Regions from separate parts of the Homo sapiens genome. Here region 2 is linked to region 1. A link means that fine-mapping ties the variant in region 1 to the expression of a gene that starts in the linked region. Tissue or cell type: CD4 T cells. Region 1 holds a variant in brackets; the other region holds the start of a gene. All regions are shown on one strand. Distances are between the middles of the regions.

Region 1 (8,105 bases):
TGGGAAGAGTAAATGGAAATATTGGAGAAAATATCAACTCTAATCAACAGACTGACATCATTTGCATCTTGTTAAAAAGGGTAAATGCAAGATTTGCTTTATTTATGTATTTATTTATTTATTTTAATAGAGATGGGGGTCTCACTATGTTGACTAGGCTGGTCTCAAACCCTTAGCCTTGAGCAATCCTCCCATCTCAGCCTCCCAAAGTGCTGGGATTACAGGCATGAGCCACCATGCCCAGCCAGCTCACACCTGTAATCCCAGCACTTTGGGAGGCCAAGGCAGGCAGATCACCTGAGATCAGGAGTTTGAGACCAGCCTGCCCAACATGGCAAAACCCCATCTCTACTAAAAATACAAAAATTAGCCAGGTGTGGTGGCAGGCGCCTGTAATCCCAGCTACTCTGGAGGCTGAGGCAGAAGAATCACTTGAACCCGGGAAGCGGAGGTTGCAGTGAGCTGAGATCACAGTCTCTAGTCTGGGTGATAATTATGAAACTCTGTCTCTCTCTATATATATATATACATATATGTGTGTATTATTTTATGAAATGTGTAAAACCAACAAAATGACATGTACACCAATGCATTATAATGATGTTCTTGCAAATGAGAACTTAAAACCATCAAAACTTAAAAGATGCTTGGAAACATGACATGTTGAATTAGTCAGTCTCTCGAATATTTCCAAAGAAAGAAAAACATATATAATGTGATAGGCAAATTTTATGATTCATGTTGTGACTGTCAGTGAGAAAGCCTTATTATCATTGTATTGGGTTGCATATTATGTGCCAAAAGAAAAAAATTGCTCACATGGTTCCTGAAAAAAACATTTATTCTCTGGCATGTATTTTGGTGTGTATAGTTTTTATGGTGTAGCAAGCCATAAAAACATACCTTAGCAATAATAGAGTTTCTCCTTGAATCTATACTGTTGCGGAATGTTGGAAACAATGCTTATTATGCTGTTACAATCTCGTATAGATTTTGTAATCCAACCAGAGAAAGTCAAATTGAAAGTTGCACAACACTTAGCTTATATCTTACATGAGTGGTAAGAACATTTTAAGGAGGGTCTTCTTGTTTGGTTAATCTTCTCTCACAAAACTGGATTAAAAGCATTCAGAGAATTGACAATTGTAACTTTGGCCAATACAGATTAGTCCAGACAAATATAAAGACATTGTATGAGAGTAGCAAATATGAATGAAAATATAATACAGTTATTATAAAATTGTTAGAAGAATCTGAAAGCAATGCTATTTGGAATACTCTTTTATATGCTGTAAATCTTAGGAAAACAAAGGGATCCTGCTAAAATTCATATATATGTTGGGGGAAAAACAGTGATAATCAACTTCTTGAAAACAAATTTTCAGGGATTACAGCTGACCACATCATTTACTTTAGCATATTGAAATTGGCCAATCATATCAATGTTGGCCAATCTAACCAAGATTTTTTTTTTTACATCCTTAGAGAATTAAATTAGAAGTTGTTCCAACATACTGAGCCTGTCCAAGCATTCCAAATAACATTACTTCTATGGCAAGCAAGATTTCAAAATAGTATGTGCCACTGGGTCAGTGATTGTCAAAAGTGGTCCCTGGTGCAGAGGCAACAGCATTACCAAGGATCTTGTTGTATTTAAAACTCTTGGGCCCCATCCCTGACCACAGATGGGCCCCCAATCTGGTTTAACAAAGCCAACCCCTCCAGGTGATTCTAATGCAAGCTCAAGACTGAGAACAAGGGTACTAGATGTTCCCAACATTGCTGCAACAAATTGATGCAATTTTATTAATGAAAGCAGTTTGTATTAATCCAATCTCACGCTGCCAATAAAGACATACTCAAAACTGGGTAATTGATAAAGGAAAGAGGTTTAATTGACTCACAGTTCCGCATAGCTGGGGAAGCCTCAGGAAACTTATGATCATGGTGGAAGGGGAAGCAAACAAGGTCTTCTTCACCTGGCAGCAGCAAGAAGTGAAGCGCGAATGGGGGGAAAAGCCCCTTCTAAAATCATCAGATTTTGTGAGAACTAACTCATGATCAGAATAGCATGGGGGTAACTGCCCGCATGATTCAATTACCTCCCACCCGGTCCCTCCCACAACATGTGGGGATTATGGGAACTACAATTCAAAATGAGATTCGGGTGGGGACACAGGCAAACTGTATCACGGTTTGAACTGAATGAAATGAAATTAGAGATATTTTTGCACCTTATCTCCTATGTTGGTGTCAATGTTATGTTGCTTTCATGTCGGTTGGTGACCTTTTTTCCTGGCCTTTGGAAGAAATTATGTGATGTTGGCATTATTTCTTCCTTAAAAGTGTGGTAGATTTCAAAGGCATTAGGGATTGGAGTTTTCTTTGTGGGAACCTTTTAAATTAGAGATGAAATGTCTTTAATAGTTATAGGATGATTCCAATTTTCTATTATGTTTTGTGTCCATTTAGGTAAGACTTTTTTCTAGAAATATTTCTGTTCCACTTAAATTTTCAAATACATAGGCATAAAGTTATTCATCATGTCTTCTTATGATCTTTTGGTGCTGAAGAATCTGAAATGATATTCCCTTTTCAAATTTCTGACATTAATTTCTGGTTGGAATCTCTTCTTTTTATTCATGGAGTCTGTTCTGATTTGATCGATTGTTTTCTAGGATTACAGCACAACACTCAATCTGGGATTTCTTTTCTATCTGCACCTGCGGATCACAAGGTCAGGAGCTTGTGATCCTGACCAACATGGTGAAACCCTGTCTCTACCAAAAATACAAAAATTAGCTGGGCATGGCATGGTGGCACACGCCTGTAATCCCAGCTACTCGGGAAGCTGAGGCAGGAGAATCGCTTGAACCAGGGAGTTGGAGGTTGCAGCGAGCTGAGATCATGCCACTGCACTCCAGCCTGGCGACAGAGTGAGATTCTGTCTCAAAAAAAAAAAAGATATTAATTATCCACTTATTCATCAAGCTCTGCTCAGAGGGCTTTGGGTTGTATATAAGACAATGCTAATTTGTCACCTGTGAGGAGCTTCCAAAGAATATAGTACAGATTCAGAGGCAGTGGGTTTTAGATTTTGTTTTTCTTTTTGAAACATATTTTTGGGTTAGATGCAGTGGCTCACGCCTGCAATCCCAATGTTTTGAAAGGCAGAGGTGAGGGGATTGCTGGAGGCCAGGAGTTTGAGACAAGCCTGGGCAACATAGTGAGAACCTGTCTCTACAATAATATGTTTTTAAAAATGTTTGTGTGGGTTGGAGCTCTGATGGTAATTGCTTATGTGTCTGCCTTCCTCCACTAGACTTGAGCCCTAGAAGGCACAGGCTGCATTTGTCTTATTCACAGATGTATCCCCCACGCCTGGGGCAGAGCTTGTACATAGGAAGTTTTCAAGAAATATCTGGTGAATGAATGTAATTCAGTGACTACATGCCTTTATTTACAATAGTATGTATTCTAGTGTGCTGTGATAATTTGTTAGTTTATGAAATCTCTATTTTATGCATCTTTGTTAAGATGACATGTATCAAACACTTAGTACAATGTCCGGAACATACATGGTAGGTATTTTCTTTTTCTTTTTGAGACGGGGTCTCGTTCTGTTGCCCAGGCTGGACTGTGCAATCTCTGCTCACTGCAGCCTTGGCCCCCAGGGCTCAAGCAGTTCTCCCACCTCAGCCTCCCAACTAGCTGGGACCACAGGCATGCACCACCATGCCAGGCTAATTAAAAAATATATATATATTTGTAAAGATGAGGTCTCACTATGTTGCCCAGGCTTGTGTCCAACTCCTGGGCTCATGTGACCCTCCTGCCTTGGCCTCCCAAAATGCTGGGATTTCACGTGTGAGCCACCACATGGGGCCTAGGTCTTTTTTAAATGTTAATTTTCTTATTTTCTTCCCTTTGCATTTCTTTGCATCTAGCACAATCTCTAATACATAGTAGGCGTTCAGTGATTTAGAGATCACTGTAAACAATCCAAGAACCACTGGCAAAATGTGTGTGTGTGTGCATGCACGTGTGTCTGCCTGTGTGTCCGCACGCACACGTGTGTGTCTGCCTGTGTGTCTGCGCATGCACGTGTGTGTCTGCCTGTGTGTCGGATGCATGCATCATTTGGGGAAAGAAGTTTCAACTTTATGTCATAAGAGTCTTCAGTGTTGCTGAAGAATGGCTGTTGTAGATTAAGGAGTGACTAGCTTTGGGAATGAGGTAAGAATCTACATCTGTGGAGATTGGAACAAAAATTTAGAGAGACTATTTTCTGAACTCAGAACCGATCATAGTGTTGGACAAGTTTAAGTCCCACAGGGCCCATTTAAAATTAAGATTGTCCCAAAGATGACACAGGAATTAATTTGAGAGGACTACCAATGGTCAAATTTGGGACAATTTGAGCATCAAAAAGAATGAGAAATACACACACACAGAATTTTTTTTCTTTTTTTTTGAGACAGAGTTTTGTTCTTGTCCTTCCTTCCGGGTGTGCAGCAGGACCCTCTCTGGAATGGGGGTCTTATGACCTACAGTCAAACCAGGTAGGTTGGATAATTTCTTGATGGCCAGTTTATGCACAGAAAGGTGTGGTGGTTTAGGGGGAGGGAGTTAGAGTAATATTTTTAGGTTTGGTTTCACCGCTGGCAAGGGGAAGGAGGAAGGTTTCTGGTTTCTTTTTTTTTTTTTTTTTTTTTTTGAGATGGAGTTTTGCTCTAGTGCCCAGGCTGGAGTGCAGTGTCACAATCTTGGCTCACTGCAACCTCCGCCTCCCACATTCAAGCGATTCTCCTGCCTCAGTCTCCAGAGTATCTGGGATTACAGGCATGTACCACCACACCTGGCTAATTTTGTATTTTTAGTAGAGATGGGGTTTCACCATGTTGGCCAGGCTGGTCTCGAACTCCTAACCTCAGGTGATCCGCCTGCATCGACCTCC[C/G]AAAGTGCTGGGATTACAGGAGTGAGCCACTGCGCCCTGCCAGTTTCTGGTTTCTAAACCCTGCCTTGGGGAAGAGGGATTCTAGTTTCTATGACTAGCCTCAGGGGAGAATAAGAGGCCAGAGACAGAAGGGCAGGAGACGGTCAGAGAGAGCTGCTTCTGAAGCCTTTATCTTAGGGTATCATCTTCTTTTTTATTTTTTCAGAGACAGGGTCTCACACTGTCACCCAGGTTGGAGTGCAGTGGTGGGATCATAGCTCACTACAGACCCCAACTCCTGGGCTCAAGCAGTCCTCTCACCTCAGCCTCCCAAGTAGCTAGAACTACAAGTGTGTGCCACCAAGCCCAGCTCATTTTAAAATTTTTTGTAGAGACTCCTGGTTTCAAGCGATTCTTGTACCTCAGCTTTCCAAAGTGCTGGAATTCTAGGTGTGAGGCACTGCACCCGGCCCTGGACTATCATTTCCTGAGACGGTACACTTCCCAGCAGTAAAAAGGAATGAACCACTGACATGCAGATCAACATGGATGAATCTAGAAAACATCATCCTTAGTGAAAAAAGCTAAACACAAAAGACTATATATTAGATGGTTCCATTTATAGGAAGTTATGGAACAGTCAAAATTAATCTATGATGATAAAATTAGAACAGTGGAGAGGTACATTTTTCTCCTTTGGAGTTAGTAAGTAACAAGTGCATGAGAACTTTCTGGAGTAATGGAAATTTCTATATCCATTGGGAGTATTGGTTAAATTCAGGTGTTGGTTACACAAGTATATACATATGTCAAAATTCATCAGATTACATATTACCTAATATCTATGCATTTCATTTTATGTAAATGATACCCTAATAAAACCAAGGGAAAATAGAATAACCATAGTAATGGATTATAACACATAAAATAAAAAAAAGTTTATGAGTCCATAGTGATACCCCAGAAAAAGGGCGGGAGCTCCTTTTGGGGGGGAATATTACCTAATAAAAGAGGAAGCAATGGTAGAATTAGAAAGTTACAATTTTGCAACCACCAGCATGATAATCCAGGGAGGGATCATCAAGGGATGATAAAAACTACTGGGTTGGCCAGGTGTGGTGGCTCACACCTGTAATCCTAGCACTTTGGGAGGCCAAGGTGGGTGGATCACGAGGTCAGGAGATCGAGACCATCCTGGCTAACATGGTGAAACCCCGTCTCTACTAAAAATACAAAAAAAACCCAAAACAAAACAAAAAAAACTACTGGGTGGGGGCTGGGCGCGGTGGCTCACGCCTGTAATCCCAGTACTTTCGGAAGCCAAGGCGGGTGGATCACCTGAGGTTGGGAGTTCCAGACCAGCCTGGCCAAAATGGTGAAACCCCATCTCTACTAAAAAAAAAAAAAAAAAAAAAAGCAAAACTTGCAATGTGAAGTGGCTCGTGCCTGTAGTCCCAGCTACTCGGGAGGGAGGCTGAGGCAAGAGAAGAAGAACAGAAGGTTGCAGTGAGCCGAGATTGCGCCACTGCACTCCAGCCTGGGCAACAGAGCGAGACTTCATCTCAAAACAAACAAACACAAACATTACTGGGTGAAAGGTGGGTGGAGAACAAGACAGTCTCGTAGTCTTGAAGGCCACAGATTACTTATTAACCCCAAAATGTATGTTTCCAATGAAGACATATTAAGTTTGATCCAACAGATCAAACTTAGCATCATCAATAATGGGACACATTTACATTATTTCTTTCTGATATGAAGCAATGGGAAAGACACACCATCACCTGTTTAATATTCTAGCCATAAAAGCTTAATCCTAACCAAATCATGAGAAAACAATAAAGCAGATCCAGATGTCAGGGTATTCAGTACAACTGGCCCGGACCCCAAAACTGTCAATATCCCGAAAGGACAAAAGAGATGAGGGACTCTTCTAGATTAAAAGACAGTGACAAGACATAGCTTTCAAATGTATGCATGATCCTTTACTGAACTCTGGACTGGGGGGAAGAGACTGTAAGGGACATTTGGGGGGTAATTGCAGATATTTGAATATGGATTATAAGATAAATAATGGCCAGGCATGGTGGCTCATGCCTGTAATCCCAGCAGTTTGAGAGGCCAAGGTGGGCAGATCACTTGAGGTCAGGAGTTCGAGACCAGCCTGGCCAACATGGTGAAACCCCATCTCTACTAAAAATACAAAAGTCAGCTGGGTGTGGTGGTGGGTGCCTGTAATCTCAGCTACTCGTGAGGCTGAGGCAAGAGAATCGCTTGAACCTGGGAGGCAGAGGTTGTGGTAAGCCGAGATCACACCACTGTGTTCCAGCCTGGGCTACAAAGCAAGACTCCATGTCAAAAAAGAAAAAAAGCCTGGGCATGGTGGTTCATGCCTGTAATCCCAGCACTTTGGGAGGCCAAAGCAGGCGGATCACCTGAGGTCAGGAGTTTGAGACCAGCCTGACCAACATGGAGAAACCCCATCTCTACTGAAAATACAAAATTAGCCAGGTGTGGTGGCGCATGCCTGTAATCCCAGCTACTTGGGAGGCTGAGGTAGAACAATAGCTTGAACCCAGGAGGCAGAGGTTGTGGTGAGCTGAGATTGTGCCATTGCACTCCAGCCTGGGCAAAAAGAGTGAAACCCTGTCTTAAATAAATAAATTTAAAAAAAGATAAATTGTATCAATATTAAATTTCTTGGGTGTGATGGTATCATAGTTTTTAGGAGCATGTCCTTGATCTTAGGAGATACATTCTAAAATATGCAGGTGAAGTGTCATAATATCTACAATTTACTTTCAAATGGTTTAGCAAAAAATGGCTTAGCAGGATGGGTGCAGTGGCTCACATCTGTAATCCCAACACTTTGAGAGGCTGAGATGGGAGGATCCCTTGAGCCCAGGAGCCCAAGGCTACAGTGAGCTATGATCGTGCCACTGCACTCCAGCCTGGGCAACAGAGCGAGACCCTGTCTAAAAAAAAAAAAATGTTTAGCAAAACTAACACAAACCCTCTCTACGTATAAATGAAGTATAGAGAGAGATACATATATGGAAAGAGCTGTATATATACATATATGTATATATACATATATGTATGTGTATATATGTATATATACACATATATATGTATGTATATGTATATATACACATATGTACGTATATGT
Region 2 (8,105 bases), 540 kb after region 1:
AATTTTGTATTTTTAGTAGAGACGGGGTTTCTCCATGTTGGTCAGGCTGGTCTCGAACTCCCAACCTCAGGTGATCCGCCTGCTTCGGCCTCCCAAAGTGCTGGGATTACAGGCATGAGCCACCGCACCTCGCCGAAGTTTTATTTTTATCAATGGAATACATGTATGTAGTTTGCAAAGTTAAGGCTTATAGGGGAAAAGAATAGCTACCTAAAGTCTTACTGTTATTTCTGTTGGTACTTCTAAATAACATGCTTACTTTTCCATGTGTACGTTTTTCCGTTTTATATTAGGTTGGATCATATGAAATTGCCAGTATTCAACCATTTTTTTATCTGCAAAACTGGCAATTTCATATGGTCCAACCTAATAACCTAATCTTTTTCTTCCTGCTTCTTGTCCAGATGATTATTGTGTGACATGGAGTTGCTTCGTTTTGATTGTTGTGGATTGTGACTGCACCTGCCCCTCAGCTGACCTGGTTCAGGGATCAGCCTCTGAGCTCAGCCCCTGCTTTGGGCTCCTCCTGCCCAGATGGCATCTCGGGCCTGGGTGAGAAAGGGCTGCAGGGTATGAGGTCAGCCTTTGCTGTGATCACTGCCCCCCAGTGGGCCAGCCTGGAGCTGCCAGCTGGGCAGCTGGGGGCAGGGCCTCGGGGGCTGCCTGAGCTCTGTCTGCTTTGCTGACGCTGTGACCAATCTCGTGCTCATCAGTGATCTGGGCCCCAGGCAGACCACCTTTCTGGGTCCATGGCCATTAGTCCAGTGCTCCAGGTGTAGCCTTAGGCCAACCATTGAACCCTTTGAGTCTCAGTTTCCCCATCTGTTTAAGATGAGGATTGTTCAACCTTCCAGATGGGCTTCTGTGGTGATAGAATGGCAGGTACTTGTCCTGAGGCCATCAGAGCTGCTGGTGACAGGACACCTTCCTGAACTCCTCCAGGCGCCTCTGATCTCTCCTTAGCTGCTGTTGTGTTACCTTCAGGTCAGTGAGAAGCTGCCCAGGACAGGGTCTGGAGGTCTAGATCCCAGGCTTAGCTCAACCTGTCTTGCCCCAAGACCATAGCCAAGTGCTCTGTGCCTCAGTCTCCCCATCTGTGCCAGGTGGTTGGTGCCAATCCTCTGAGGCCTCCAGGTGCCTGAGAGCTGCGGTGTCTGTAGTGTGAGCCCCTGTCCCCTCATCCTTCTCTGAGGCTGGGCCCTGCCCAACCTGCTCCAGGGACCAGTGGTCTTGGGAAGCTTGGGCTGACTGGGATTGCAGACTCCGGGTCTGGTGTATAGGGCCCTTGGCAAATCCCTATTCCTTTCTGGGCCTCCTTGAAGAGACAGTGGGCTGAGCTTCTAGGCTCCCTTTGATTCTTCTGTGTGTGGCCCAGAATGGGACAGACAGACTGAGCTGGGCACAGAAATACCATAGTGACAGAACCATTCGAAGACCCTGCCCTGATGGAGGCCCCGGGCCAGGGGAGGAGGCACAGTCAGGCTGTCAGCTGAATGGAAAATTACACTTTCGATGAGTCTGTTATCGAGTAGAGATTAGTGGGGCCAAGAACTAATCTGGGGGGCAAGTGATCCTTCCTGAGCCCTGAAGAGTAAGCAGCTGTCAACTAGATGAACGGGGAGAGAACATTCCAGGCAGAAGAAACAGTAAAGATCCTGCCGTGGGGTGAGGTGGAGCCGGGAGAGGGCGGACAGGGACCCTAGCAAGGTCTCAGAGCACGAGGGAGTTCGAGCTTTGCCCTAAGGCTTGGGAAGCCTTTGGAGGATTTGAAGGCTGGAAGTAACACCATCAGATGTGGGTTTTGAAAAGCTCCCTCTGGCTGCCAGGGAGAATGGGGTGGGCACGGGTTTGAGAGCAGGGAGCCCAAGGACCAAGCTTTGCTGTTGTTTAGGAGATGAGATGACAGTGGCTCTGTCCAGAGTAGTGACTGTGGGGATGGATCCAAAGGGTGGATTTGAGTTTAGGGGGAATTGACAGGTCATGGTGGCTCGATGTATGAGAGAAGTGTCAGGGCAATTTTGTGGCCTGGGCACCTGGCTGGAAGATGGGGGCATGGATGCTGAGTGGGAGAAGTGTATTTGACAGAGGGAAGGTGAGGAGTTTGATGTGGACCTGGCTGGGATGGAAGTGGCTGTGGGAGGATGGGGCAGAGGCCTCTGGTTGCACAGGCACCAGGCTGGCATTCGAGGCCAGAGCCTGGGATGGAGGTGTAGACCATGGGTGGGGGCAGGGGGAGTCCAGGCAGCTTCTGAGAGGCCAGACCTTGCAGGGTCAATTATGGGCCCTGAGGTGGGGGCCCTGAGGAGGGCCTCTCCAGTGATTGTGATCCAGAGCCAGGCAGGGGCGTTCCTGTCTTCCAACAACACCTGCCAGCAGTTCAGGGATCCTGGGTTTAGGGGGAGGTACCCAGCAGCGCCTCACACCCTCTCTCTCCCCCCAGATCCTGCTCATCTCTGATTACTTCTATGCCTTCCTGCGGCGGGAGTACTACCTCACACATGGCCTCTACTTGACCGCCAAGGATGGCACAGAGGCCATGCTCGTGCTCAAGTAGGCCTGGCTGGCACAGGGCTGCATGGACCTCAGGGGGCTGTGGGGCCAGAAGCTGGGCCAAGCCCTCCAGCCAGAGTTGCCAGCAGGCGAGTGCTTGGGCAGAAGAGGTTCGAGTCCAGGGTCACAAGTCTCTGGTACCAAAAGGGACCCATGGCTGACTGACAGCAAGGCCTATGGGGAAGAACTGGGAGCTCCCCAACTTGGACCCCCACCTTGTGGCTCTGCACACCAAGGAGCCCCCTCCCAGACAGGAAGGAGAAGAGGCAGGTGAGCAGGGCTTGTTAGATTGTGGCTACTTAATAAATGTTTTTTGTTATGAAGTCTACCCTGAGACCACATCTGCATTGCACTCCTAGAGGGGGTGGCCCCTAATAATGTTCTGGAACACTACACACAGGTGTGGGTTTCCAGAGCGAGCACCGCGGCCACAGAACACAAGTCTGTGCGCCAGAGCCCGGGGATGGTGCGGGCAGCCCCACCAGCACCCTCCCCACTCCCAAGCAAGCGGCTGGAGGCACAGGGCCAGGCAGGCCTGAGCAATCTTTATTCTGCAGAGGGACAATGACCACAGATCCATACACCACGTGGAGACCGAGGGGCGGGGAGCCAGGGGCCAGTCTTTCAGGGGTGGGCAGGTCCAGGCGGTGGGCAGAGCCTCGGGTGGGTGAGGGGCAGATGGGCAGACAGGCAGGGGCCTAAAAAAAAGATGAACCACACAGCAGGGGTGCTGGGAGCTGCTCCCCACCCTCCCCCATCCCACCAGCCAGCACCCAGAGGGACAACCCTAACACGACCGGCCCAGGATCCACCCAGGGGCAGAGTAGGTGGGTTGGTGCCCTCTGACTAGGGGGGCACATGCCTGCCCAGCCCACCACGGTAGAGGCAGCTCAGTTCAGGAACCAGGAGCTCTCTGGGCAGGGCCTGACCGGGGCCGCCCGACTCCCAGGCCGAGCCCCCCTACTGCTGGCTCAGAAGCCGAAGGTTTCCTGGGAGGCGTAGACCATATAGAGGAAGCCGTCCTCGTCTTTCTCCTGCTCGTAGATGTCCGCGATGGGCGTGGACACACTCACCATGCTGTGCTGGTTCACCAGCAGGAAGAAGGCCTGCGTGGGGTTCAGCTGCAGGCGGCGCCTGCAGCCGGCGGGAGAGTATGCAGCTGTGAGGGGCTTGGCTGCGGGACGGACATAGCCCTGACCCCCAGAATGATTCCCAGCCTTTCACACCCATTCTCACCCCAGCTGTCACCTCTGACCCAACACCGACTGCAGCCCCGACCTTGACCTTTCCAGCCACCCCAGAACAGGGGCCCACCGCCCGGTCCCATCACCCCTGACCCCACTCCCACCCCTTCTCGGCGGGAACCCGGCTCCCCTCCCGACCCTAGCCACCTCCTGGCGGCGGCTGCCCACGCACCGGATGATCTTGACCAACTCGCTCATGTTGACATGGTCCGGGACCAAAAACTTGGTCTTGTCCAGGACGGGCAGCTGCTTCTCACCCTTGTAGCGCTCGATGATCACCTGGGAGCAGGGCGGGCGGGCAGGGGGTCGTGTCGGGAACGCGCGAGGCGGGGGCGGGGCAGGGCTGGGGGTGCGGGACTCACCGGGATTTTGCTGGGGTGCTGGTCGCGGATCTGCTGTACCTCCTTACAGCGGTCGGCTGCGGACAGCGGCCAGACCGTGAGGCCGGGTCGGGCCGGCCCAGGTCCGCCCCGCCTGTCCCGGAGGGGCGGCCCCCGGCCACGCCCCAGCTCCAGCCCCCACCCCCGGGGCCATCAGGCCCCACAGCCCCTGGCACCTATCGCGGTGGGGAAGCGGGCAGCCCCCGCCCAGGCCGGAGCTGGTCCCAGCCCGAGGGTCCAGCCAGAGCCTGACGTCACGGGGCTGACGTCACCTGCGGCAGTCGGGGTCGGCCGGCACCCCTGCCCCAGAGCTCGCAGCTCGCCTGCCGGGCCTCACCGAAGCTCCGCCGCTGCTTGAAAGGCCGGTCTGAGGGCATCGCGCGGGCCCGGCTGGGCGCGCAGGCCGGGGCTCTGGGGCGCGGGGATGTGTCTGCGGTTTGGGGGCTCCGGGGGCTCCGCGCCTCGCGCTCAAGGGCTCCGGGGCTCGCGCTGAGCACGGCGGCTGCGGCTGCGGGAGGTAACTCGCCCGGTGACGTCAGGTCACAACATTCCTTAAAGGGGAGGCCAGTGCGCCGCTCCCATTGGGCCGACGCACAACCCGCCCGCCCGGACCCGTGACGTCACGGCGCAGAGAGCCTGGGTCCGCGGACCGGGACGCGAGGGGCGGGGCTTCTGGGCGCGTCACAGTCCCGTGACGTCATGGGCAGCGCGGGAGCTTCTCCCGCAGCCCGAACTCAAGGTAAGGCCCGGAGGGCGGTGGGGCCGCCCTAGGCCGATGGAGCGGGCGGGCCAGGCTGCAGCCCCACGGCACCACTTCCCGCCCTCACCGAGTCTGTGTCAGGACTGACGCGGTTCTGGGCGCCGTGGGAAACAGCCGGAGCCAAAGGCCCGGCGCCTTCACGGGGCTTAGGGCGAGAGAAGGGAGAAGGTGCGGGAGGCACAGTCAGACACAGGATAGAACAGGATGCTAGAAATGAACGCCCAGGTTTGAAAAAGAATAATATAATTGAAAAGTAGAGCCATCGAAATTCAGGTCTCAGAGGATGAGGTGAGAAGGCAGAAAAGGACAACAGAAGAGAAATCGTGGACCTGGAGGCTGATCGGAAGCAGCTCACCAGAGAGACAGGTGATGGGGAATAAGGAAAAGGGCACAGATGGCAACGCCAGGAGAACTCGCGGGCCCGAGCAGAGCTCCAGAGGCGAACACTGAAAGACCTGCAGAGACAGTTCCTGAAAAAGAGCTGCCAGAAATGATGCTTAAAATCCAGAGCAGAATGCGCAGACTGAAGATCAACATTTTTTTGGGGGAGGGGGGAGGGGGACGAAGTCTCGTTCTGTCGCCAGGCTGGGGTGCAGTGGTGCGATCTCAGCTCACTGCAACCTCTGCCTCCCGGGTTCAAGCGATTCTCCTGCCTCAGTCAGCCTCCTCAGTAGCTGGGATTACAGGCGCCTGCCACCACCCCCAGCTAATTATTGTATTTTTAGTAGAGATGGAGTTTCACCATGTTGGCCAGGATGGTCTCGATCTCCTGACCTCGTGATCCACTCGCCTCGGCCTCCCAAAGTGCTGGGATTACAGGTGTGAGCCACCACGCCTGGCCGCCGAAATAATTTTTAAAGAATGTAGTTTAGTAACAAGGACATGGAACCCAAAAGGAAGAAATTAGATGGAAAAATGGTGAGCAAATTGGTAAACATGTGAATCTAAACAAGCATTTAATATGCAATATGAATAATAATGATTAATTTGTGGGCCACAGAAACAAGATGCATGAGACACAAGAACATGGAAGACTGAGAGGGCAATTTGAGAGGGGGTTAAAGAGACTGAGCATTGTCTGGCTTTGTAAAGTCAGGTGTGTATTTCAGATATTTAAGAGGATCACCAAAAGAATACAAACGGAACTATAACTGCCAATGCAGAGAAAAGGGTAGTGATGGGTATTAAAACTATAATGGAAGGCAGAAAGGGAGAAAAAGGAAGCAAAGTAAAAGGGATGGTAAATATATAGTACAAAACCAGAGGTAGAAAATGTGGTTTACATTCACCTCTTAAAACACAGATGACCAGATTGGCCAAGAAAAAATAAGATGCAGCTCTATGCTATTTACAAGAGGAAATTTAAAACCTAAGGGCACCAAAAAGTAAAACGATGGGAAAAGGTGTACTAGAGAAAAACTAACCAAAAGATGTACCTATAGAAAACTCAGACAAAATAGGCCTTCAGGCAGAAGACACTGGGGATAAGAGGATCAACATGAAATGATGCGAGGAGGAACTCTGTGAAGAGAGGAAAGTTCTGAACTTCTATGTTCCAGGGTTTTTGTTTTTAAGGCTGAAAATAGGCCAGGCGCAGTGGCTCATGCCAGTAATCCCAGCACTTTGGGAGGCCGAGGTGGGTGGATCACTAGAGGCTGGGAATTCAAGACCAGCCTGGCCAACATGGCAAAACTCTGTCTCTACTAAAAATACAAAGATTAGCTAGCTGGGCGTGGTGGTGCACGCCTGTCATCCCAACTACTCAGGTGGCTGAGGCACAAGAATTGCTTGAACCTGCTAGGCGGAGGTTGCAGTGAGCTGAGATTGCGCCACTGCCCTCCAGCCTGGGCAACAGAGTGAGACTCTGTCTCGAAAAAAAAAAAAAAGAGGCTGAAAATATATTAAGAACACAAGGAGAAATTGCCAGGTCCTCCATCATAGGGAGACATAAGACCTCTTTGAGTAACTAATAAACCAAACAACCAAAAAAAAAAGGACATAGAGGATGTTAATACAGTTACTAATCAAGATCAATGAACCCCAATAGAAAACCTGACAGTTAGTTTTTTAACTTTTAAAATTTAAATTTCAGACCTGTGTGAGACCAACACATTATTTTCAATCACACAAGGAACATTTACAAAAATGACCCAACTACTAGGGTGCACGACAAATCTCAACAGATATCAAATCAGTTTCAACCATATTCTTTGGCCACAGACAAAAGCCGCGTAAGCTCCAGCTGTGTGGAAATTTAAACCTATTCTAAATATGAAGTCATATATAAATAAAAATTATTTAGTTCAAACAAAAAATGAGGATACATATGCTAAGAAAACTTGGTGGCCGGGCGCAGTGGCTCACGCCTGTAATCCCAGCACTTTGGGAGGCCAAGGCAGGCGGATCACGAGGTCAGGAGATCGAGACCATCCTGGCTAACATGGTGAAACCCCGTCTCTACTAAAAATACAAAAAATTAGCTGGGCGTGGTGGCGGGCGCCTGTAGTTCCAGCTACTCGGGAGGCTGAGGCAGGAGAATGGCTCGAACCTGGGAGGCGGAGCTTGCAGTAAATGGAGATCGCGCCACTGCACTCCAGCCTGGGCGACAGAGCGAGACTCCATCAAAAAAAAAAAAAAAAGAAAGAAAACTTGGGAGGGGGGCCATGGCAGGCCAGGTGTGGTGGTTCATACCTGTAATCCCAGCACTTTGGGGGGCCCAGACTGGAGAATTGCTTGAGCCCAAGAGTTCAAGGCTGCAGTGAGCTGTGATTGCAGCTCTGCATTCCAGCCTCGGTGACAAAATAAGATCCATTTCTTTAAAAAAAAAAAAAATCAGATTTATAGCCTTATTACATAGATGTATTACTTAGATAATAAATACAGAAAATCCATGAGCAGAGTTTCAAAGAAATTTAAGAAGGAGTAATAGTGTAATCCTAGCACTTTGGGAGGCCCAGGTTGGAAAATCATTTGAGCCCAGAAGTTTGAGACCAGCCTGGGCCACATAGTGAGACCCCGTCTCTACAAAAATGAGAAAATTAGGCCAGGCACAGTGGCTCACGCCTGTAATCCCAACACTTTGGGAGGCTGAGGTGGGCAGATCACTTGAGGCCAGGAGTTCGAGACCAGCCTGGCCAACATGGCAAAACCCTGTCTCTACTAAAAATACAG

Direction of the effects. Positions count from the first base shown, and alleles are read on the strand shown. Sizes are in standard deviations (SD) of each study's normalised expression.
For the expression in CD4 T cells of the gene that starts at base 4,702 in region 2, allele G in region 1 goes with a higher level than allele C (large effect, 2.2 SD a copy in CEDAR).

What was found. PIP is the estimated chance that this variant, and not a neighbour inherited with it, causes the effect.
Region 2: it holds the start of MAP1LC3A, and the variant in region 1 is fine-mapped to the expression of MAP1LC3A in CD4 T cells (CEDAR, PIP 0.95).

Annotation. Positions count from the first base shown.
Region 1 is chr20:35,097,787-35,105,891 of GRCh38, reverse strand. No RefSeq gene overlaps it. Among named protein-coding and RNA genes, the nearest start is that of TRPC4AP, 9.0 kb to the right of the region's middle. RefSeq lists enhancers at 3,533-4,032, 4,033-4,534. The variant C/G (reference allele first, on the strand shown) is at 4,958.
Region 2 is chr20:34,555,315-34,563,419 of GRCh38, reverse strand. MAP1LC3A (microtubule associated protein 1 light chain 3 alpha) reads right to left here and starts at 4,702. Exons shown (of 4, transcript NM_032514.4): 1 at 4,512-4,702; 2 at 4,157-4,212; 3 at 3,967-4,073; 4 at 3,075-3,684. The coding sequence starts at 4,551. The coding sequence ends at 3,522. It overlaps PIGU (phosphatidylinositol glycan anchor biosynthesis class U), which reads left to right. Exons shown (of 12, transcript NM_080476.5): 12 at 2,441-2,878. The coding sequence ends at 2,554. RefSeq lists silencers at 2,897-2,946, 4,521-4,570, 4,911-5,000.